2 separate regions of the Homo sapiens genome follow, and region 2 is linked to region 1. The links come from fine-mapping of genetic effects on gene expression. A gene starts in region 1. The other region holds a variant in brackets. All regions are shown on one strand. Distances are from middle to middle.

Evidence for each region.
Region 2: its variant is fine-mapped to the expression of GAB3 in whole blood (TOPMed, PIP above 0.99).

The regions. Positions count from the first base shown.
Region 1 is chrX:154,744,969-154,756,938 of GRCh38, reverse strand. It overlaps GAB3 (GRB2 associated binding protein 3), which reads left to right and starts at 5,862. Exons shown (of 10, transcript NM_001081573.3): 1 at 5,862-5,985. The coding sequence starts at 5,914. RefSeq lists silencers at 5,907-5,986, 6,157-6,216.
Region 2 is chrX:154,823,978-154,835,947 of GRCh38, reverse strand. SMIM9 (small integral membrane protein 9) reads left to right here and starts at 1,286. Exons shown (of 5, transcript NM_001162936.4): 1 at 1,286-1,385; 2 at 3,265-3,374; 3 at 4,993-5,233; 4 at 6,284-6,413. The coding sequence starts at 5,092. F8 (coagulation factor VIII) reads left to right here. Exons shown (of 26, transcript NM_000132.4): 26 at 1-156. RefSeq lists enhancers at 7,947-7,996, 8,017-8,096. The variant T/C (reference allele first, on the strand shown) is at 4,546.

The DNA of each region.
Region 1 (11,970 bases):
TGCTGACTTTTTTTTTTTTTTTTTGAGACAGAGTCTTGCTGTGTCACCCAGGCTGGAGTGCAATGGCTCAATCTTGGCTCACTGCAACCTCCACCTCCCAGGTTCAAGTGATTCTCCTGCCTCAGCCTCCCTATTAGCTGGGATTACAGGCACGCACCACCACGCCTGGCTAATTTTTGTATTTTTAGTAGAGACAGGGTTTCACCATGTTGGCCAGGTTGGTCTCAAACTCCTGACCTCAGGTGATCTGCCTGCCTCAGCCTCCCAACATGCTGGGATTACAGGCTTGAGCCACTGTGCCCGGCCAGCTGACTTTTTTTTTTTTTTTTTGCCATTTAGATGAGTAGGTAGTGGTGGTTTTAATATGCACTTCTCTAATAGCTAATGATGCTGAACCTCTTTCTATGGGCTTATTTGATACCTGTATATCCTCTTCAGTGAAATATCTCTTCATATCTTTTGTTTATTTTCTATTTGGATTTTTTTTACTGTTTATTTTTGGTAATTCTTTATATATTCTTGATATGAGTCCTTTGTTAGATCCATGATTTGTAAATATTTTCTCCCAGTCTGTAGCTTGTCTTTTTATACTTTTTTTTTTTTTTTTTTTTAGACAGAGTTCCAGTTTTGTTGCCCAGGCTTGAGTGCAGTGGCATGATCTGGGCTCACTGCAACCTCTGTCTCTGTCTCTGTCTCCCAGGTTCAAGCAATTCTCTTGCCTCGGCCTCCCGAGTAGCTGGGATTACAAGGGCCTACCACCACGCCCAGCTAATTTTTGTAATTTTAGTAGAGACGAGGTTTCACCATATTGGCCAAGCTGGTCTCGAACTCCTGACCTCAGGTGATTCATCTGCCTCGGTCTCCCAAAGTGCTGGGATTACAGGTGTGAGCCACCATGCCTGGCTGTCTTTTTATACTTCTTAACAAGGTATTTTGTAGAGCACAAGTTTTAATTTTGATGAAGTCCAATTTATCACTTTTTTCTTTTTTTTTTTTTTGTTTTTTTTTTTTGAGGTGAGGTCTTGCTCTGTCACTCATGGCTGCCTCAATCTCCTGGGCTGAAGCCATCTTCCAGCATCAATCTCCTGAGTAGCTGGGACTACAGGTGTGCACCACCACACCTGGCTAATTTTTTTAAAAAATATTGGTGTAGAGACACCGTCTACCTTTGTTGCTCAGGCTGGTCTCAGACTGTTGGGCTCAAGTGATCTTCCTGTTTCGGCCTCCCAAAGTGCTGGGATTCCAGGCATAAGCCACTGCACCTGGCATCAAGTTTTTCTTTTATGGATTGCATTTTTGGTGCCATGTCTAAGAACTTATCACCAGGTCGTAGGTCCCAAAGATTTTCTCCTATTTTATCTTCTAAAAGTTTTGTAGTTTTACATTTTATATGTAAATCTAGGATCCATTTTGAGTTCATTTTTGTATAAGGTGTGAGGATTGGGTTGAGGTTTTTTGTTTGGTTTCGGCCTATGGACGTCCAGTTGCTACAGTTTGTTGAAAAGACTATCCTTCCTCCATCGAATTGCTTTTGCACCTTTGTCAAAAACCAGTTGGACGAATTTATGTGAGCCTATCTCCAGGCTCTCTATTCCGTACCATTTATCTATATGTCTATCCTTTCACCAATACAAAAAGTTTTGATTACTGTAGCTTTATAATAAGCCTTGAAATCGTATAAAGAGATTTATGTGTTGACCTTGTATCCTGCAACCTTGCAAAACTCACTTATTAGTTTTGGGAGTTGTTTTTGCATATTCCTTGAGATTTTCTAAGGAGACAATTATCTTCTGCAAATTGAGACATTTTCTTCCCAATCTTTATGCCATTTGTTTCTTTTTCTTATCTTATTGTACTGAACTAGGACTTTTAGTACTATGTTGAATACAAGTGGTGAGAGTGGATATCCTTGCCTTGTTCCCAGTCTTAGGAGGAAAGTGTCCAGGTTTTCACCAGCAAGTATGATGTTACCTGTAGGTCTTCTGCAGATGTTCTTTAATAAATTGAGGAAATTCCCCCATTTTCTGAGAGTTTTCTGAGAGTTTTTGTCATGAGTTCTGTCAAATGCTCGTTCTGCATCAACTGATAAATCATGTGATTTTTCTTCTTTTGTCTGTTAATGTACTGTATTGCATTAATTGGTTTTCAAATATTGAACAAGCCTTGCATCTCTGAGATGCATGGTGTATAATTATTTTTATGTATTTGTGGATTCTATTTGCTAGTATTTTTCTAAGGATTTTTGTGTCTATATTCATGAGGCATATTGGCATGTAGCCTTCTTTTTTTAACTTTTTCTGGTTTTGGAAGTATCAGAGTAATACTGGCTTTATAGAATGAATTGAGAAGTGTTTGATTTGGACTTATGACAACAATTTTGTGCAATCTCTTATTTATTTAGAGATGAGGTCTTCCTATGTTGCTCAGGCTGGTCTCAAACTCCTGAGCTCAAGGGATCCTCCTGCCTCATCCTCCCACAGGGCTGGGATTACAGGTGTGAATCACCATACCTGACCAATTTTGGGCAATTTTAAATACAACAATAATGGATATGATGAAAGACTATCACTGATAATAATAAAGTCAAATTTCATATTCCACATGAAAATTAGATGATTTTAACTCATAGAGAAGTCGTTTATGGATGCCTATAGAGGAAAAAGAGTGTTCCCCTATCTGAACTTGTGCCATGGCACTCCAGGCCTTTAATTCACATACTTCTTAGATTTATTAAATCAAGAGGTGGGTGGGAGGTGGGAGATATAGGAAGGTGCAGTCCTTTTCCTCATTACTGACTCTCACACACATTTGAAGCTGTTTCCCCTGCCTGTCTATGATCCAGAGTTTTCTTTTCAAATTTTCTTTTCATAGCAAATAAGTTAGATGCATAGTCACTTTGACTCATCATGATGAAATTGAGATAGAAACTCTTCTGTAATAGTAGGCATTTATTTTCACAAGTTTGTAGTTATAAGATTTACAGAAGTTAATGAACTGTGAAACAAAGTGTATTTTAAACAAAAAATAAATGGGGAAGCCACAAAGGGAATGCAGGTGCCAAAAATCACTTGCTATTCAAATTCTCTCCTCTCCCCAGGCTAGAGTGCAGAGAAGCTAAGATGGGTTTCCATGAAAGGAACAATTTCGATTTCTCTGGCAGTGAGAACAGGGTACCCTAAAAGATACGGGAATAGTTACTCATATCACATCTTTATTTAACCCATCTGGCTAGTCTGGAGATTAGTAGTGGGTAATTGTAGAATTAATCAGGCTGTGATTCGAACTGAAGCTGCTATTCCAGATGATGCTGTTTTCCTACAGCAAATCAACATAGCCCCCTGGCACCTGGGATACAGCTATTCCTTTGCCAAATGTTATTTTTTCCCATTCAGCAGAGAACACTAGAAGCAGCTTACTTTCATCTAGCGGGAACAGAAGTACAACCTTAGGACTATATCTATTCTCTGGCTCACTGTCATAATCCACGTTGAATGGAGCTTGATTGTTGTGAATGTTGTGCTGGTTTATTACACTGATGACATATGTACTGGACCTGATGATCTAGAGGTAGCGAATACTCTAGATGCTTTATTAAGATACAAGTACACCACAGGGCAGGAGATAAGCCCCATGAAAACTCAAGAGCCTGAACCTCAGCAAAGTTTTTAGATGGTCTGGACCACGTTGGGTATTCAACATGTTGTTGTACCGCTTACCACCTACCACTCAGAAAGAGGCACGGCATTTGGTGTGGATGTTTGAATTTTGTAGGCAACATATGCTACATTTAATTGTGCCGCACCAATGCACTCAGCAAGTCATCTGTAGGGTTGCATGTTTTCGGGGAGAGATCCAGGGCAAGAAAAGGCTCTGTGACAGGTCCAGGCCACTTGACCCTTATGACCATGTAGATTCAACAGGTACAGGACCTTTGACACACTGGGAGGCTACACGGAGCCTCTGGCAAGTCCCAGTAGGAGAAACACACAGCAAAGCCCTAGAGTTTTGAAGTAAACCATGCCCTCTACCACAAAAGAAGTATTTTCCTTTTGACCAACAGCTTCCAGCTTGCTCCTGGGCTGTGGCAAAGTCTGAATGCTTGACCATGGGGCACCAAAGAACCATGGAACTTCAGCTGCCACTGATAAATTTGGTGCTATTTCATCCTCTTTTGGAAGTGGAATATTTGAGACCAGACTCAAGCAGGTCTGGAAGGTACAGGAAAGTTGCTAGAGCAGGTGGCTCACATCTTTGTGGCCCCTGCTGCTGCATGATCACCATTCCCTGGACTTACACCCAGAATGTCGTAGGGAGTTCCTCATGACCAGGTCTATCGGTCAAGGTTTCAAAAGGAAGCAAACAGTAGACTCAAGGGGTTGAAATGAGGAAAGTATAATTAAGGGATTTTTTTTTTAACAGAGGTGTAAGCAAGACTTAGAGAATTAGCAATGCATAGTGGGGCTCTCAGGGACTGGCAACAGTTGATATGGCCACAGCCACTGCTAAGTGCTCAAGCTGCCCACAGGCAGAGACAAACAATGAACCCTTAATAACAGCATTCCCTGGGGGGACCAGACAGCCACCTGGACTGCCATCTGGAAGGGGCAGCAATTTTTTCTCACTTGAACAGGTACTAATTTTGTACATGGATTCGCTTTTTTAAAATTCACATTTCTGCTGGCACTCCTGCCCATTGACTTACTGAACCCATTATTCACACTGACATTATCTCACACAAGAAAATCATTATAAGCCAGTGTGCGCATGCTGATGGACTCCACTGGTGTTACCATGTTAGCTCATCACCCTGAAGCATCTGGCCTGATAGGATGGGAGGTTGGTCATTCTGTTGAAGATGCTAGCAAACGTCACATAGATGATACCCACAAAAAGCAGAGGGTGGTGCTTAAGTGGATGGGCTCTTGACACAGCTCTGGCTGCCTATGGATGATTTTCTCGTGTGGCTCTCGACAAGTGACACTGTCATCCTGTTTTTCATTTTAGTAACCTGCAAAATTGAGATAATAATAAGAGCCCTTTGACAGGGTGTTGTGTGGATTCAATGAGATAACGCCTGGAAAGTGCTTAGCACAATCGCTGGCATGGTGTTAGCTTGGCAGTAAGGAAGGTCACAAGTGTTAGGTGCTCATGATTGTTATTTTTACTTAGCGTGGTCAGCACACTAGTTGGCACAATCGACTTTAGATCCATCTTTTAAAACCTTCGAGTCAAAGAGATTGCAAACAGCACTACCTTTTGAGTTTGGGTCATTTGGGTTCATTAAGACATTTAGACCGTTTAGCCGGCAAAGCTTATCACTGAATACAACGATCTTTGGGGGAGGGACATAGAAAACACACTACTGTGCAAGCAATCAAGTGGAATAGGGAAGTCCAAGAGGAGTCTTGCTTTTGTTTCTCCGTGAACTATGCACATGGCAGATGCAGGTGGTACTTGGGTTTCAGCTCCAGGGTCCCTGAGACCCAGGGACCAGCCCGTTTGGCGTGGCGGATTGGGGATGGGGCATGAGGGCAACAGGTTCCAGGCTGTGCTCCCATTAGGTCGCAGGGCTCCTTCCGAGCGCTTTCTCGTGACCCTGGGTGAGAGTGGCAGGCGCCCTGCTGCGTAGGCTCCCCCCCCCACACCCCCCCCCCGGGCACAGCCGCTGGCGGAGCTGCAGTTGCTCGAAGGGGCTTCCCAGGCTTCGCTGCTTGCTTTTCCCGCCGTCTTGGGTTGCGGGCGGCGTCGGTTCCCTCCCCGGGGGCCGCGGCGGCCGGAGGCGGGGGTCGCAGCGGCCGCTCGGGGCGGCGCTGGGCGGGCGGGCGCTGGGCCCGCCCCGCCGGCATCCTTGGCCCGACTTCCTTCTGCCGCGGGCGGCTGGCCCAGCTGGAGGAAGCGGCGGCGGCGGCCACGATGAGTGCGGGCGACGCAGTGTGCACCGGCTGGCTCGTTAAGTCGCCCCCCGAGAGGAAGCTACAGCGCTACGTGAGTAGGGGCGCCGCCACCCGCCCGGCCTTCGCGTCCCGGGGCACCCGCCCGCGGGGCGGCCGCGGGGAGCCGCTGGGCTCCGGGCGCGCCAGGCGCAGCCGCTCCCAGCGCCCGGGACTGCGGGCGAGGCCGACGGACGGAAACCGAAATCGCACGTCGAGCCAGCTTCGCCGCTGTGCTAGGCAGCGGGCCGGAGACCAGGTGGCGCCTGCCCGCGGGGCTCAGGGACTCCAGACCGCCGCTGACTCTAGCGGAGGGAGGCGGGTTGGGGCTGAAACCTCAGGCGCCACTCTCCGTACAGGAGCGGCCAGGGAGACATCTCGAAAGCGTGCCCCTTTCTTTGGCTGGGGGTGGCTCTGAGACCCATCGCCCCGCGAAGGAGACGCGGCAGGGGATAGGGAGACTGACAGCCAGAGGGGAATTGCCTGCATTCCCCCTGGACCGTAAGGAGTAAGGAGTGCTGCTCTTGTAGCTGTCATCGGACACTGCTGTCTGGAACCCTACACAGTGTAACTCGTTTCTCATCGTGTAACTCCTTTCAGCTTCTTCTTAATGCTGACACCGCGCTTTTATAGTGCCAGCTGGACAACTGACTTTTACTAATATGAAATTAGGAATACTTGGAAGAGCGAATCTTCCTACCTATTCCATTACCGTTTTAAGATGTACTATCGACACCTCAAACGTTCATTATCTCCATCAGCGTCCTCACGATAAGGTCTTAAAAACATTCTGCTTAAAGACCTGATTGCTACTCAGTGTTTTTCAGCCATTAGGAAGAACCACTTCAGTCCCCAGGGAGTTGCATATAAATAGCTATTAGGACTTCTTGCTTTTTTTAGGCTGGGAGTAGCTGGATGGATTCATCTTGTTCTTAATTCCTAATTTCTCTGCAACTTCACTGCACGGTGGTAGGAACAAACTCGCGCATGTCTGCGCTCATCCAAAGCAGCCCACCCCAAATGTGGTTCAGCCTTGTGCTCTTGTCTATACAGTGCTCTCAAACTGCTGTCCTCTTCTGGCCAAATTTCACAACTGTTTTTGTTCCCACATAGATGAGGCACATATTGTGTGGAAGTTCAAGAGGTGGGATTATAAAAAGACTTTAATAATGTATGAATACTTCCAGAATGTGTGGCAGGAGATTTTCCTGAACATAGAGTTGCTCAAGCCCTCTTTCCCCATTCACATCGGGCTAGACAGTGTGTGTTTCTCTCTTAGGGGTCTTTGAAAAGATTTTTGTTGTTTGTTCTGCAGAACAGAACTTTAGAGGAAGGTTGTTCTATTTAGCACGTGAATATCAGGAGTGCATAAATACTGAGATTTCTCTAAGTGCCAGTGTGTCCCTACATCATTTGCTTTTGAGTCCAGGAGTCCATAAGCACAGGGTCCAATATCTCTTGGCCTCTGCATTATCCAGCTGCTTCCTTAACTGTGAAGCTACTCAAAGGAGGCAAGAGAAGAAAACCTGCTCCCATCACCTGCATGAGCAGGTGAGGCTTTTGTCACACAGTAGTGCTTGCAGTGTTGACTCAGGATGGGTTTCCTTGTTGTCCTTTGGAATGACAGACATTTTAAAGGTTCACTATACAATTTCAGTAGATGATACAGAAAGATGCCCCTGGAGGGCAAAGATTATAGAATATTTTATTTCCCAGTCTTTTTTTGTATCTTAAGCAGACTGGCTTAGGGAAGTTTATTAGTATTTCATCAACTTTGGGAAGGCATGAGTGTGTGTGCCTATTATCACACGCGGTTCATTCCTTTAGGGGATGTGGCAAGAGTGGACACTGCGCAGCTTAGAGATATGTGGGGCGTGTGATGATGGGGCAGTGACTAGACTTAAGACACAAGAGTACCTAGGTGTCATCTTACCAACACTCCAAGACATAAACCTTGATGTTTGGGAACTGTCTCTAAGAAAGATCATATCTAGTCAATGCTTTTTTCGCTGACAGGCATCTGTCCCTGGAACACACCACAGAAAGAATTCTTTTTCCTCTCATAGCTAAATTCTGCAGGAATCTTTTTCACCACTAGATGGTGATCATGTGTCACTTCGACGGGGCCTGGATAGGGCTGTTACAGCTGCTTAAATTCAATTCCTGTCACTCCCTCCCGTTAACGGAGCGCTAACTCCGAACTAGGCCCTGTGTTACAGGCTGGGAAGACAGAAAAAAAAGACTTGATTCCAGTTTATAGTTTAACATTTATAATAGTAACATAGCAAAACTAGTTATTGGCACAACCAGGACAATAACTCAGTTATTCGTGCTGCCAGGCCAGCAAGCAGCACTCCATCAATGTTTGCTGTTACAAATGGAAGCTCAGGCAGTTTTTAGGTAAACCTTTCAGTCCAAAGTAGGCTTGTACTTCATCCACTTGAATCCATCAGTGAAGACAATCAGAAAGTTATTTTTTATCACTGGTCTTTTAAAAGATAGTTATTTTCATCTGTATTTTTTGTTTCACAAGAAATATATTCTTATGTTAATAAATAGAATGAAAAGTGAAGACCCCCTTTAAATTTCCCCTACCCCGCTACCTTCCCTTTGCTCTCCTCCTTATTCCACTCCCCAACCCAGGGATAACAACTGTGAGCCGTTCAGTGAGTACCATTCTACAAAATTTTTCAGAAAATATATAATTTTCTTTTTGCACAACTGGGATCATATTCTACTAACGGTCCTGCAATTTGCTTTGTTCACAAACATCCTGGACATCTTTCCAGGTTAGTACATATAGATTTACTTCATTCGTTAAAGCATTGTCAAATATTCCTTGTAATACATATAATATAACAATTTCTCTATTGGTGAACATTTGGCTTGCATCTATTTTTATCCATTTTAAAGAGTCCTATAATAACAGTGATAATAAAGCTATAATAGTTCACTTTTATTGAATGTTTATATGTGCCAGGCACTACACTAAGAACTTGTATTAACTCATTTAGTTTTCAAAACAATGCCAAGAGCCAGGCACTGTTTTTGTCCCTGGATATAGGTTCTCTGGATATAGGTTCTTTGTTGCATATTTAATTTGCAAATATTTTCTAGCAGCCCATAGTTTTTGTCTTTTCATCCTCTTTTGAAGAACTAAAATTTAAAAATTTTAATGAAATCCCCAATACAATTTTTCTTTTATGAATCATGGATTTAATGTTAAATCTAACAACTCTTCATCTAGCCTAAGATCCTTTGTCACCCAGCCTTGACCTCTTGGGCTCAAGTGATCCTCCCACCTCAGTCTCCTGAGTAGCTGGCACTATAGCTGCTCCCCACCATGCACTGCTAATTGTATTTTTTGTAGAGAGGACAGGATTTCTCCATGTTGCCCGCAGGCTGGTCTCCAACTCTTGGCCTCAAGTGATCCTTCCACCTTGGCCTTCTAAAGTGCTGGGATTACAGGCGTGAGCCAATGTACCTGGCCTCTGAAAGTTTTATAATTTTATATTTTATATTTAGATATTTTATATTTAGATCTATGATCCATTTTGAGTAAATTTTATAAAAGCTGTGAGGTTTGTATCATGGTTTCTTTTCTTGCATACCGATTTCATTTGTTCCAGTACTATTTATTGAGTAGACTGCCTTTATTCCATTGATTTACTTTTGAAACATCATCAAAAACCAATTTACCTGAAGGGCACAGTGGCTCACGCCTATAATCCCAGCACTTTGGGAGGCTGAGGCTGGAGGATCTCCTGAGGTCAGGAGTTCAAGACCAGCCTGGCCAACATGGTGAAACTCTGTCTCTACTAAAAACACAAAAAAAATTAGCCAGGCATGGTGGTGGGCACCTGTAATCCCAGCTACTTGGGAGGCTGAGACAGGAGAATTGCTTGAACCCCAGAGGTGGAGGTTGCAGTGAGCTGAGATCACACCATTGCACTCCAGCCTGGGCGACAAGAGCAAAACTATCTAAAAAAAAATCCATTTACCATATCCATGTAGATCTATTTCTGGATTCTCTAGTCTGTTCCATTGATCTATTTGTTTTATGCCAACAACATGCTGTTTAATGACTAATGACTGTAGCTTTACAATAATTCTTGAAATCAGGTTATTTTAGCCCTCAAACTTTTTCTTTCTCAGAGTTGTTTTGGCTATTTTAGGTCCTTTGTTTTTCTATGGCAATTTTAGGATTGGTTTGTCAATTGATTTCACTGACCTCATATCCCATAGCCTTGCTAAACTCACTTATTAGTTCTAATAGCCTTGTCTGTAGTTGCAACCTGCAATACTATAAATGTTGCATAGAAATGACGAGAGCAGACATCCTTGACTTTTTCTTGATTTTAGAGGGAAAGCATTCCATTTTTCACCTTTTAAGTATGTTAGCTGTAGGCTTTTTGTAGGCACCTTTTACCAAATTGAGGAAGCTCCCCCATCTTGCTAGTTTGCTGAGGCTTCTTCTCATGAGTTGGATTTTGTTGTGTTTCCTGCATCTATAAAAATGATGATATGTTTTTTATTTTTTAGTCTGTTACTATGGTGAATTACACTGCTTGATTTTAAATGTTGAACCAACCTCGAACTTATGGGATAAACTTCAGTTGGTTGTAACATATTATTCTTTTCATATATTTCTGGATTTGCTTTGCTGATAGTTTGGCTGAAGATATTTGTCTCTGTCCATGAGGGATATCGGTCTGCAGTTTTCCTTTTTTATGCTATCTTTGGTTTTGATATTAGCATAATGCTGGCATCATAAAATGAAATCAGAAGTTCTCCCTCCTCTTGTATTTTCTGAAAGATGTTGTGTAGAATTGGTATTCCTTCTTCCTTAAATGATTGGTAGAACTCACCATTGAAAACATCTGGGCCTATACTTTTCTTTTTGGGAAGGCTATCAACTACAAATTTTCTTTCTTTCTTTTTTTTTTTTTTTTTTTTGAGATGGAGTTTCACTCTTGTCACCCAGGCTGAAGTGCAGTGGCACGATCTTGGCTCGCTGCAACCTCCACCTCCTGGGTTCAAGAGATTCTCCAGCTTCAGCCTCCCGGGTAGCTGGGATTACAGGTGCCCACCACCATGCCTGGCTAATTTTTGTATTTTTAGTAGAGACAGGGTTTTGCCATGTTGGCCAGGCTGGTCTCGAACTCCTGACCTCAGGTGATCCACCCGCTTCGGCCTCCCAAAGTGCTAGGATTACAGGTGTGAGCCACTGGGCCTGGCCAAATTTTATTTCTTTAATAGATATAGGGCTATGTGGGTTATCCATATCTTCTTGAATGAGTGTCGTTAGTGTCTTTCAAGGCTTTTCTCTATTTTGTCTAAGTTCTTGAATTTATTGGCAGAAAGTTGTTCATTATGTTCCCTTATTATCCTTTAAATGCCTGTATGATTTGTAGTGATGCCTCAGTTTTCATTTATTACATTAGTTTTTAGGAACCATCCTTTGGTTTCGTTTATTTTCTCTACTTTCTCCCTGCTTTCAATTTCATTAATTTATCCTCTTATCTTTATTATTTTCCTCCTTTTGATTGCATTGGGTTTAATTTAATCACTTCTTTATCTAGTTCCTTAGGGAGGAAACTTAAATTACTGATTTGAGACCTTTCTTATTTTCTAATATAAGCATTTAGTGCTATAATCTTCCTTTTTTTTTTTTTCTGAGACTGAGTCTCGCATTGTCACCCAGGCTGGAGTGCAGTGACACAATCTTAGCTCACTGCAACCTCTGCCTCCTGGGTTCAAGCAATTCTCCTGCCTCAGCCTCCTGAGTAGGTGGGATTACAGGCACCTGCCACCATGCCTGGCTAATTTTTGAATTTTTAGTAGAGATGCGGTTTCACCATATTGGCCAGGCTGGTCTTGAACTCTTGACCTCAAGTGATCCAGCCCACCTTGGCCTCCCAAAGTGCTGGGATTACAGGCGTGAGCCACCACACCTGGCCAATCTTCCTTCTAAGCACTACTTTAGGTGCATCCCACAAAATTGGATATGTTGCATTTTCATTTTAATTCATTTCAAAGT
Region 2 (11,970 bases), 79 kb before region 1:
TATTTCCTGTTATGTTTAACTTGATAATCTTATTTTGGCATTCTTTTCCCATTGACTATATACATCTCTATTTCTCAAATGTTCATGGAACTAGCTCTTTTATTTTCCTGCTGGTTTCTTCAGTAATGAGTTAAATAAAACATTGACACATACAAACAAATGCCTTTGAGAATTGTGTTTTTACACTGGAAATAAAAATGTGAACACTGATTTTTAAAACAAATAGGGGCACTGAATAGCAAGATGGACACTCTAGAAAACCAAATTAGTGAGTTAGAAAACCAGATTAAATTGAACTCAGAGTAAAAATGATATAATTCATGAGAGTCTGAATAAAATAAATCAGAAATGGAGCCTCAATCCAGGAGAACAGCTTATATGGAGAGAGAGAGACTGAGAGAGAAATGGGAGTTTCTGTTCAATGGGCATAAAGTTTCAGCTATGCTGCTGGGCACAGTGGCTCATGCCTGTAATCCTGGCACTTTGGGAGGCCAAGGCGGGCGGATCACCTGAGGTCGGGAGTTCAAGACCAGCCTAGCCAACATGGCGAAATCCCGTCGCTAATAAAAATATAAAAATTAGTTGGGCATGGTGGCACATGCCTGTAGTCCCAGCTACTTGGGAGGTTGAGGCACAAGAATCGCTTGAACCCGGGAGGCGGGTGGAGGTTGCAGTGAGCCAAGATCGTGCCGTTGCATTCCATCAGCCTGGGCAACAGAGTGAGACTCCATCTCAAAAAAAAAAAAGTTTCAGTTATGCAAGATGAATTAAGTTCTACAGATCTAATGTACAACATTGTGCATATAGCTAACGATACCATACTGGGCACTTAAAAATTTGTTAAGAGAGCAGATACCACGTTGTGTTCTTACTACAGTTTTACAACAATGCAAAAATGCATTGTAAACACTATGTGCAAATAGAATAGCAAAGAATGTATACAGTGCCCATGAGCATAACATTCTAGTGGACCCACAATGCATCAGAGTTCAGTGAGACTCAAAGGGAGAAGAATGTTGGCAAAGTCAGTGGGGAGGAGAAAATGAGTGTGATGAAATAGGCGGTCTCATTAAACTTCCCTTACAAAACACAAGATCAAAGATAAAATTATTAAGAATTTCGAGACAGTGACATCAGAGCAAACGAAACATAGGGCCCCTCAGGGTGTGGGGCCCTGTAGACCTGCATAGATCAAACTCCCATGAAGCCAATCCTGAGTCCCAGGCAAGCTGGGACTTTTGGTCATCCTAGCAATAGTCATGTGAGTGCACCATCTTGGAAGTAGATCCTCCAGTACAGTCAAGCTTTCAGATGACTGCAGTCCCAGCAGATACATGACTCCAATCTCATCATCCACTCCAAAACTAACCTACAGAAACTATAAGGTAATAAATGTTTTCTTCACAGTTGCTAAGTTGGAGGTCATTTTTCATTCAGCTAAAGTTAACTTATATGACAGCCATATTCTTTTTACAATGGAAAAGTCAGACAGGCATACAATGCTCATTTTCAGCTTATTCACATTGTCACTATTTTGTGGGGTTACCTGGTGGGCACAGGACAGTGACCAAGTTTGCAGGTCCTCCAGCTCCTGCTGGATCTTTTAGCTTCTCCAAATCCTAGAAAAGTTGTGTGTTTAGCTCTTTCAGAAAACACCTGACCTTCTCATGCATGTTACTCCACCATCGAAGTTAGAAGCTTGGAGATAACATGAGACTGATGCAGGTTTTAGTCCATTTCATGGGCTCTTCTCTTTTCAGGCTTCCAGTGTATACTTGCTTTCTCCACTTCACCTCACCTTTCCTTCCACAGAAAGGTCAGGGTATGGAGCTCATATGAGGGTTTAGAGGAATTTGGCTCAAGGGCCAGGGCCAGCTTCCTCCAGTGTTTCGGGTCACAACCTAGATACACCTTTATCAGCGCCTGGGAATGTTCAAGGTCCTAATTTTCATTCAGGCCTGTTGGCTGGGTCACAGAATGATCAAGCCACTCCATGATTTTCTAGCATGACACAGCAAGAAACTGGGGGAGACTGGAGGACTCTACAAAAACTTTCATTTTATGTATTTCCTGGTAGCTCTGTTTTCTGATAGAACCTAACTGAGATACCATTTTTGCCAGTTCTTCTATGGATAAGTATTATTTTTTTAATTTTTTTAATATTTTATTTTTTGTAGAGACAGTATCCTGCTATGTTGCCTCGACTTGATTTGCATTTTTTTTTTTTACTTTAAGTTCTGGGATACATGTGCAGAACATGCATGTTTGTTACGTAGGTATACATGTGCCACGGTGGTTGGGTGCACCCATCAACCCATCATCTAGGTTTTAAGCCCCTCATGTCCCCCAGGCTGGAGTGCAGTGGCATGATCATAGCTCACTGCAGCCTCAATCTCCCAGGCTCAAGCCAGGCTACTGCCTCAGCCTCCCGAGTAGCTGGGACTACAGGCATGCACCACCACACCCAGCTAATTTTTAAATTTTTTGTAGAGACAGGATCTCGCTATGTTGCTCAGGCTGGTCTCGAACTCCTGGGCTCAAGCTATCCTCCTGTCTCAGCCTCCCAAAGTGCTGGGATGACAGGCGTCTGCCACTGTGCCTAGCCAGTACTATTTCTTTTTAATTAGTTTGTAAGAGTTCTTTGTACGTTAACAATCTTAATTGAATGTCTGTCGTATATGCTGTGAAATTACTTAATTTGTCATTAACCTTTTATCTTTTTTAAACAATGTTTTGCTATATGAAAGCTTTACATTTTTATGTTATAAATTTATCAGCATTTTCATTTATGGCTTTGGGTTTTATGACATGCTTAGAGTAGCTTTTTCTGCACCAAGATTATAAAAATATCCACACATAGAATTTTCTATCATAAAAGTATGACAGAAAATGTCATATTTTGTATATAATTTTATTTTTTGTTTAGTCCTGGATCCATCTAGAATTTCTATTTTGCATAGCATGGCAAAGGGCTCACACCCAACATCATATTAAATAAGGTCTTTTTCCCTGATATGAAATGCCACATATATATGTTATTATAATGCATAGTTAGATACCATGTGGTGAATAAAATATCTTAGAATTATTCAAGCCTAAGAGGATAGAACTACTGCAAGGATGGGTTTTGGTATCAACACAGATGTTTATACATAGAGAGAAAATGATGTCTGTGTGCTTAGCTGTCAAATAAGGAGACTGGGGGAGGGTTAAATGTAATCAGTGATATCATAAGGAGTGGTGGAATTCTGTTTGGAACTTCAGAGACCTAAGGAGAAGACTGACCAGCTTCTTCTGAAGACTTCTGCCCTCTAAAGACTAAGGCCTAATTCCACTGGTTTCTTTGAATTCCGTGGTCCTAAGTCCATTTTCAGGTAAGTGGTTTCCCGCTGGATGTGGGTCTCTTTAAGCCGTATCAAACAGTAGGTGAGTGTATCAGTTATAAATGTCTTAAGTAATAGGAGGCCCAAATTATAATGGCTCAAATAAAAGTATATTTTTCTCATACCATGCAGTCCAGAAGTAAGCAGATACAGGTGTTAGTTTAGTGGCTTGAAATTATCAGAGCAACTTCAGGCAACATTTCTTAAGCAATATTCAAGGCAGCATAAAGGGAAAATGGTAGCACCATCTCTTTTATCAAGACAGCAAAAAGCCTTCCCAAAAGCTATCCATCAGATTTCCCTTATGTTTCATTATCCAGAGCTATGTCACATAGCCATGCCTAACTTCAAGGATGGCTAAGAAAGGGAGGATTCAGCTTTTTCAGCTTATCTAGTTGGATGTAGTAAATGAAAAATGGGTGGGAACAATATCTGCCAAAAGTCGCCATTCATTCAAAAAATATTTATTGAGCACCTGGATACCCTATGTGCTAGGTACTGTTTAGCAGTGAACAAAACAGACAAAAATCCCTGCACTCATAGAGCTTACATTATATTCAGGAGATACATATAATAAAGTAAAGTAAAATATATTCTACTAGGTTCTGATGAGGTTCTGGAGAAAAATCAAGCAGGTAAGACAATTAGGAAGTTTGTAGGAGGGTGGTACAATTTTAACAATGGGATCTAAGGAAAATCCTCATTGAGAAGGTGATATTTGAGTACCTGACAGAGGTGAGGAAATAAATTCTGAGAATACCTGGGGGAAAAGCATTCCCTGGAAAGGGAAAAGCAAGTTAAAAAGCCCCAAGGTAGGAACATGCCTAGCTTGTTCAAAATGAAATGAGGCTAAGTTGGAGTGATGATCAAGAGGAGACTCATAGGATATGTGGTCAGCAGTAACTAGGACATAATCTGACCTACAACCTACCAAGATCTCTTTGGCCACTCACTGGAGAAGAGGCTTAAGGGAGGCAAGGACGGAAGCAGAAAGACAGAGATGATGGTGGGTAGCAGTGGAGGTGGTGTGAAGTGGCAGGATTCTGGATACGTTTTGTAAGTAAAGGTGACTAGACTTTTCTGATGGATAAAGTGTATGAGAGAAAAAGAAGAGTCATTACTATATATGTAAATCTAAGCAAACATTTACTTTTTAAAGCAA[T/C]TTAAAGTTTGTTACTTGAATATATAAAATATATCATGGAGTTAAAAATATATAGAAATTTATTATATTTGGTATCTAAAGTAGTCAAATTCATAGAAACAAAAATGAGGAGCTGTTTAGAGTTTCAGTTTTCCAAGTTGAAAAAGTTCTAGAGATCTGTTGCACAACAATGTGAATGTACCTTTTTCAGCCTGAACAGGTGAAAGAGTTTCTACTAATTGAGTTGGGGAAGATTGAAAAGGTATCAGGTGTAGGAAGGAATGTCCGGTATCTGACCTGATAGAGCATAGTCAGGTTTTGTTTTGTTTTCTTGGAGGGGATATATTTTGCTTTGGAAACTGACCATTTTCAGGAGTCACCTGTGTAAGTCAGTCAATTGTCCTTATGTTCGTGATGGTGAGAAGATTTTTGGAATATGAGCTAAACCATCATTGTCTAACTTTTCAGACAAAGTTTCTGTGGAAAGACCTACGGACAAAGACATCTCTCCTTGGCAGAGTGAGCTAGGATTACCAGCTCTTCAGCCGCAGCTGAAGGCGGGAGTCCATGGAACCCCAGAAGCTGCTGATAATTGGATTTCTGCTATGCTCTCTAACTTGCCTCTTGTTGGAGACAGTAGCTTCCTCTCCTTTGCCTTTGTCTGCCTTGGGAATACAAGAAAAAACAGGATCGAAACCACGCTCAGGGGGTGTGTTTGCTGTTAGGATGAATGTTTCTTTCTTCATAGGACTTAAGATTCATGTTTCAGTTCAGGTCAGGTAAAATGAATTTCATGTTTAAAAAGAATGTTCATAGGAAAGCAAACTATTCTGGTTTGGTTCAATTTAGTTCAACAAGCATTAACCTACCTACTACGTACCAAGCCCTTTTCTGAACTACATGGATTAGGAATTGAACAGCCTCTGTTATGAAGGAGCTCACAGATAGGCAGACAAAGCCATAGATGCCAACCTTCCATGGAGTATGATCAATGCTCCCAGGGGACAAGGGGATAATTTAAATTGTTTTGGGGGAGGGGTCAGGAAAGACTTGACAAAGGAGGTGAAATTGAAAATAAACCTGATGGTCCACTGATCCACAATCTAGGTTCCAACATGCACACACATGCTATTCAAGTGTCTTGCTGGTTAGTGGTGAATCCTCTCAACTCCATGCTGCAGACACTTTCGTTTTCCCCTCCTTCTTTCTTCAGGGTCAAAGCACTGTACCTTCCTCCCCCAGTTGCTAATGAAAAGACCCAACATCCCCAGCCTTACATTGATCAGCAAACTCCCCCTAGAGGTCCTTCTTCCAGTGGCCCTGGCCCCTTTCTCCTCTGCTCTTAGGGCTGGTGGCCTTCTCCTTTCTCTTCCTGGGATACTCCCTCTCCTCAGCCTCCTGCAGGACTCCCAGATATACTCTAGGCAACAACACCTTAGTAAAGACTTTCTTGTTATCAAGTCATGCTTCTCTTTCAAAAAGTACCCAATATACTCAAGATATCCGAAACAACAATTATTGTTCCTATTTGACTTACAAGGAGGCAAAAATTATATCCATCTCAGGATACTTTAAAAACAAAATGTTTGCCCTTTGAACATCTTACAGCCAGCACAGCAAAGTAGTTTAGAATATGGGCTCTGGACAACTGTAAGAACATGATATCTGGGACAACTATTTGAACTCGAATTTGGATTCAAACGCCAGCCCTATCATTTACTTGACCTCTCCTCAATGAATGTCTATGCTCTTTCTGCAGGTAATCACAGGTCCTGGCTGAACAACTTCAGGGATTACTTATGGCAACTTATCAAGAGTGCCTTACCTCCAGCAGCCATTGTTGCTTTTCTTCTCACCTCAGCACTAATGGGGATCCTCTGCTGCTTCACGTAAGCTTCTGTGGGAAGAAGAGACAGGGAGGAGAGAGGGAATGTGAAGGGGGGTGGGAACAGAAACAGGTTGCTCACCAGCCTGCATATCTGTAATTAAGGGAAAGTTTTAAGAAATTCAATTCTGGGAGGAAAACTGTGAAAGGTCATGCAACCCCCTTTTAAAATGTCTACTTTCTCTTTTACTTCCTCCAACTTGCTCCATTTGTTACCAGTGACTGACAGGTCACATTTAATGACTAGTGTTTCCAATGGTCATTTCTTTTATCAACTTTATTAACTCCTAATTTTTCTTCCCTGTGGCTCAAGAACTATACATAGAAAATAAATAATTAGCTGTGCTCTCAATTTCCTGAAAATTTATCATAATATTTATCTACATAAATCATATGAAGCCAAAAGAATCCTGAGGAAAACAAAATAGTTGAGCTAAATTTTGTTAATTCAGTCAGTATTTACCAACAAATGACTACTTGCTTGTCTCTGTGCTTGTTGCTAGAAAGGCAGAGAAAGAAGACAATTAAAAATTACAAATTGGTAGGTCATTGCTATTGTGGGAGACAGAGTCCAAGTGGGGAGACCTATGAAAGTGATCAACAAAGGTGTTAAAGAGATGAGGTCAGGAAATAGTTGGCCAGTTTGCAAGAGGAACTAAAAGGGAATAGAGAATAGAAATGGGGGGTCCTGCAGAGCTCAAAAATCTAATAAAAGTGGCTGAGGATAAAGATCAGATTAAGGGTGTGGCATCACCTATGGCTCCTGTAACCTCAAAATGATCACAGGATCAAGAACTGTGTCTAGGAAGCAACCTTGGATGTGGTTACTGGCACATGGAACTGATTGGAGACAAATAGATTAGAAGTCAGCTAAGCTTTTGAGAGAAGCTTATTGCCAGAGAAACCATAAGCCAGAACTAAATGAGCCATCTGTTGTAAACAATAGTTAGGCCTCCACCTTTCCATGAAAAAGAAGGACACCAGCTTCGAAGGTCCCAACATTTGCTTCAGATGCAGCCATAGAGAATAATGGATCAGTAGAGCCTCCCAGAGAATGGACAATGGGCCACAGAGTCACCCTTTGAAAGCAGGATTTGGGCCTAATCCATGCCTACCTACCAGGACTCCAGGATTGCCACAGAGCAGTGACTGCTGTGTGTCTCTCATTCTTCCTATTTCCAAATGGGAATGTTTATGGTGCTTATCCTCTTCCTGTTCCATCATTATTCTGGGGTGTGGAGATCAGGAGCATATAACTCGTTTTAGTTCATAGGTCACTTAACCAAGCAGAGCCACCCTCAGACTTGAGAGAACTAAGCATCACCCAGATACTCTGGACTTTGAGCTGGACACAGTGATGAGTGTGACTTAGTACTGAGGAAAGGGTTTGCCACAAGTCAGGTATTCTGAAACTAGACAGGGAGACCGGAATTTGGCATTCAGAGTATAATTAATGATCAATGCCTGTGGAAGATAGGGGGTGGAAGGGAGAAATCAAACTGCCTTGCAAGCCCAACAAAGACTCAGTCGGCCCCATCAGGGTTGTCCCACATGGCTGAAATGGCTGGACCTCTCTAACCCCACCTCAGTCATTCACTGGATGTGGGCTGCCCCCAGAAAGTACATGGAAGCTCTCTGCAGCTGAGGCAGACTCTGAATGAGCTGACAGGTAGAGGCTTTCTGCTGACAACACTCTCAGCAGCTAGGGAAATAAGGCCTTTCTCAAGCGGAAATATGGGTGGAATATTTCCATATGCATGACAGGGTGGCTGTGTTCCACGTATGAAAGGAAAAGTGAAACAGATACTGGGTGATCAGAAAGACAGACTGTAACAGAGACTGGCTATATGTTCAGCAATCCTGTTCCTTCTTCCCCAAGCACAGAGTAACATTATATTCTTAACCTTCCTTCCAGTTAGGCTGGGACCACAGTACTGAGATTTGGCCAGTTAAATACGAGCAAAAGGAATGTATGACATTTCCAGGCCTAGCCATAAAATGTCTTGCACATGTGTCCATGCTGCCTCTCTCTTTCACATATGCAGGGCTTCAACTGAAGGACTCTAAGATGGTGAAACCACATGATGGAAGGAGCTGGGATCCCTGAATCACCTTGTGGAGGAGAACTTAACTTACATCAGAATGAGGCATGAGTGAAGGATCAATTTTATTGTGTTAAGCTACTAAGATCTCAGGATTGTTTGTTATAGCAGCTGAATATCCCTGACTAGTATACCTAGCAACCAACCAAGGGAGCTGGAACTCAAATCAAGATATGTCTGGTTCCACATCTTTGAAGTCATTGTTACTCAAACTGTGGTCAGCAGGTCAGCTGCATCAAAAGCATCTGAAGTATTGGTTAATTAATATTCAGAGGGACTTCTGTGAAGATAAAGCAGGCAATATGCCAAGAAAAAGAATTCCTTCTTTGAAGTAGATGGCTTAACCTGAATAGAAAAGCCAATAAGCCCTTGCTGGGAACAAGCAAGCTAACTAGTGAAAGAAACATTTCTGGACCCAGTTGGGCACCAAGTAGAAGCCTAACAGGTAAATTGGAATGAATAAGCATATAGGCAAGCCATATTTTTAAGAAGCAGTTTGTTGAGGCAAGAAGGTAAAGTCTGAAACTTCTTTATGCTCAGACCTACATCTGCTGCTCTCACTTGACTGGAAAGAAGTAAAGGCTACAAGAGCTCACACATACCTCAGCATCATGAAGAGAATTTGTTAGTCCAAAGTATAGCTCTGGACTTGTGCACATCTCCTGTAAATAACTGGTCCAGTAAGAGTTTACCTCATTCAACAGGAAACAGCACCAGATCTATGCAGAGTTACTATATGGAAAACACAAGAAACGTATAAGCAAGAAATGGCAGATGAGGAATACTCACTAGAAAAATATCTCAGGGCAGATAAAAACCATGTACTAACATATTGCCATAAATTCAAAACATTTGATACAAAATATAAAATAATAGCTAAGGTCGGGCATGGTGGCACATGCCTGTAATCCCAGCATTTTCAGAGGCTGAGGCAGGAGGATTGCTTAAGGCCAGGAGTTTGAGACCAGCCTAGGAACATAGCAAGACCTCATCTCAATAATAATAATAGTAAATGCTATATGCAGAAATACAACAGGGCAGATAAGGTATACCAAAACAAAAGAAGAAGATGAAAATTAGTTGGAAAATCCCAAGAAAAATGTAAAAGACAAAAAGTAAAACTATCACCAAAATGAGGAAGCATGAAGAAAAAGAGACATTGGTGCAAAATATGAAAGAAAATATGGAAAATAGGATTATATAGGCAAGCAGTATTAAGTAAACAGTTTGGTGAAAGTAAGATTAGAGAAGAAATGGTAGATGCAGGAGGCACAGAATGATTTCTTCGATGAAGAGAACCAAAATAATCCAACAGAAGAAAAAGTTATAATTTTTTCTTTTTCTTTTTTCTTTTTTTTTTATTGTTACTATACTTTAAGTTTTAGGGTACATGTGCACAACGTGCAGGTTTGTTACATATGTATACATGTGCCATGTTGGTGTGCTGCACCCATTAACTGGTCATTTAGCATTAGGTATATCTCCTAATGCTATCCCTCCCCCCTCCCTCCACCCCACAACAGTCCCCAGAGTGTGATGTTCCCCTTCCTGTGTCCATGTGTTCTCATTGTTCAATTCCCAGCTATGAGTGAGAACATGTGGTGTTTGGTTTTTTGTCCTTGCGATAGTTTGCTGAGAATGATGGTTTCCAGCTTCATCCATGTCCCTACAAAGGACATGAACTCATCCTTTTTTATGGCTGCATAGTATTCCATGGTGTATATGTGCCACATTTTCTTAATCCAGTCTATCATTGATGGACATTTGGGTTGGTTCCAAGTCTTTGCTATTGTGAATAGTGCCGCAATAAACATACGTGTGCATGTGTCTTTATAGCAGCATGATTTATAATCATTTGGGTATATACCCAGTAATGGGATGGCTGGGTCAAATGGTATTTCTAGTTCTAGATCCCTGAGGAATCGCCACACCGATTTCCACAATGGTTGAACTAGTTTACAGTCCCACCAACAGTGTAAAAGTGTTCCTATTTCTCCACATCCTCTCCAGCACCTGTTGTTTCCTGACTTTTTTTTTTTTTTTTTGAGGTGAAGTCTCAGTCTGTCACCCAGGCTGGAGTGCAGTGGCACCATCTCGGCTCACTGCAACCTCTGCTTCCCGGGTTGAATCGATTCTCCTGCCTCAGCCTCCTGAGTAGCTGGGATTACAGGCACGCGTCACCACGCCCAGCCAGCTGATTTTTGTATTTTTTGTAGAGACGGGGTTTCACCATGTTGGTCAGGCTGGTCTTGAACTCCTGATCTCGTGATCCACCCGCCTCGGCCTCCCAAAGTGCTGGGATTACAGGCGTGAGTCACCGCGCCCAGCCAAGTTATAATTTTTTAAGTGTTGCAGAAATTAAAGAAGACTGGAGTCTGTGGTCATAAAGGACACATCAAGTCCCAGGAAAAATTGGGACTTGCTACTGGGCACATAGTAGACTCTCAGTAATACTTGTTGATTTTTAATTAAGACATTTCACAGTGAGGATTGCACACAGCCTCTCTGTGCCTCATTCTTCCTCCTCTATACTCACCTGTGTATACCATTAGCTGCAGCTGTAATGAAGGCTTAAGCTAGCTGCTTATTACCTGAGGCACATGGAAGCTTGGCTAATCTCCCAGCATTCCAGAAGCAGAGGTGGAAATCAGGAGGACTGACAGGCTCTAACAAGTCCACAAAGATATGTGTACAAGGAATTTTTAGTATGGTTTACGATAGTGAAGAAATGGAAACTTAAATGTCCATCAGTCTGGGGCTAGCTAAAGAAAGTATTGCACATTCATACACTGAGTACTAAGGATAATTACACAGAAACATATTCATGAAATATCATTGAGTGGAAAAAGCAGATTATAACAGAAGATATATAGTTTAGTCTAATTTCTTATTAAAAACTAATTGTATAGGGGGAAAGCCTCTAAGAACCTAACCCAAGTATTAGACATTGGTTATCTCCTTGTGGTAGTGAATAGGTTGTTTTATTACTATTGGCGGTGGTGTTAACTTTTGTTTTTCCTGTCTAATTGCACTTTCTGATCTTTCTTTTTTTTCTTTTTCTTTTTTTTTTTTTTTTTTTTTGAGACGGAGTCTCGCTCTGTCGCCCAGGCTGGAGTGCAGTGGCGTGATCTCGGCTCACTGCAAGCTCCGCCTCCGGGTTCACGCCATTCTCCTGCCTCAGCCTCCCGAGTAGCTGGGACTACAGGCGCCCGCCACCACGCCAGGCTAATTTTTTGTATTTTTAGTAGAGACGGGGTTTCACCCTGTTAGCCAGAATGGTCTCGATCTCCTGACCTCGTGATCTGCCTGCCTCGGCCTCCCAAAGTGCTGGAATTACAGGTGTGAGCCACCGCGCCCGGCCCACTTTCTGATCTTTCTACAATGAGCTGTATTGTTTGATCAGTTCATTTTTAAAAAGATACTTTAAAAACAAAAGAAGAAAAACTACCTAACCATACT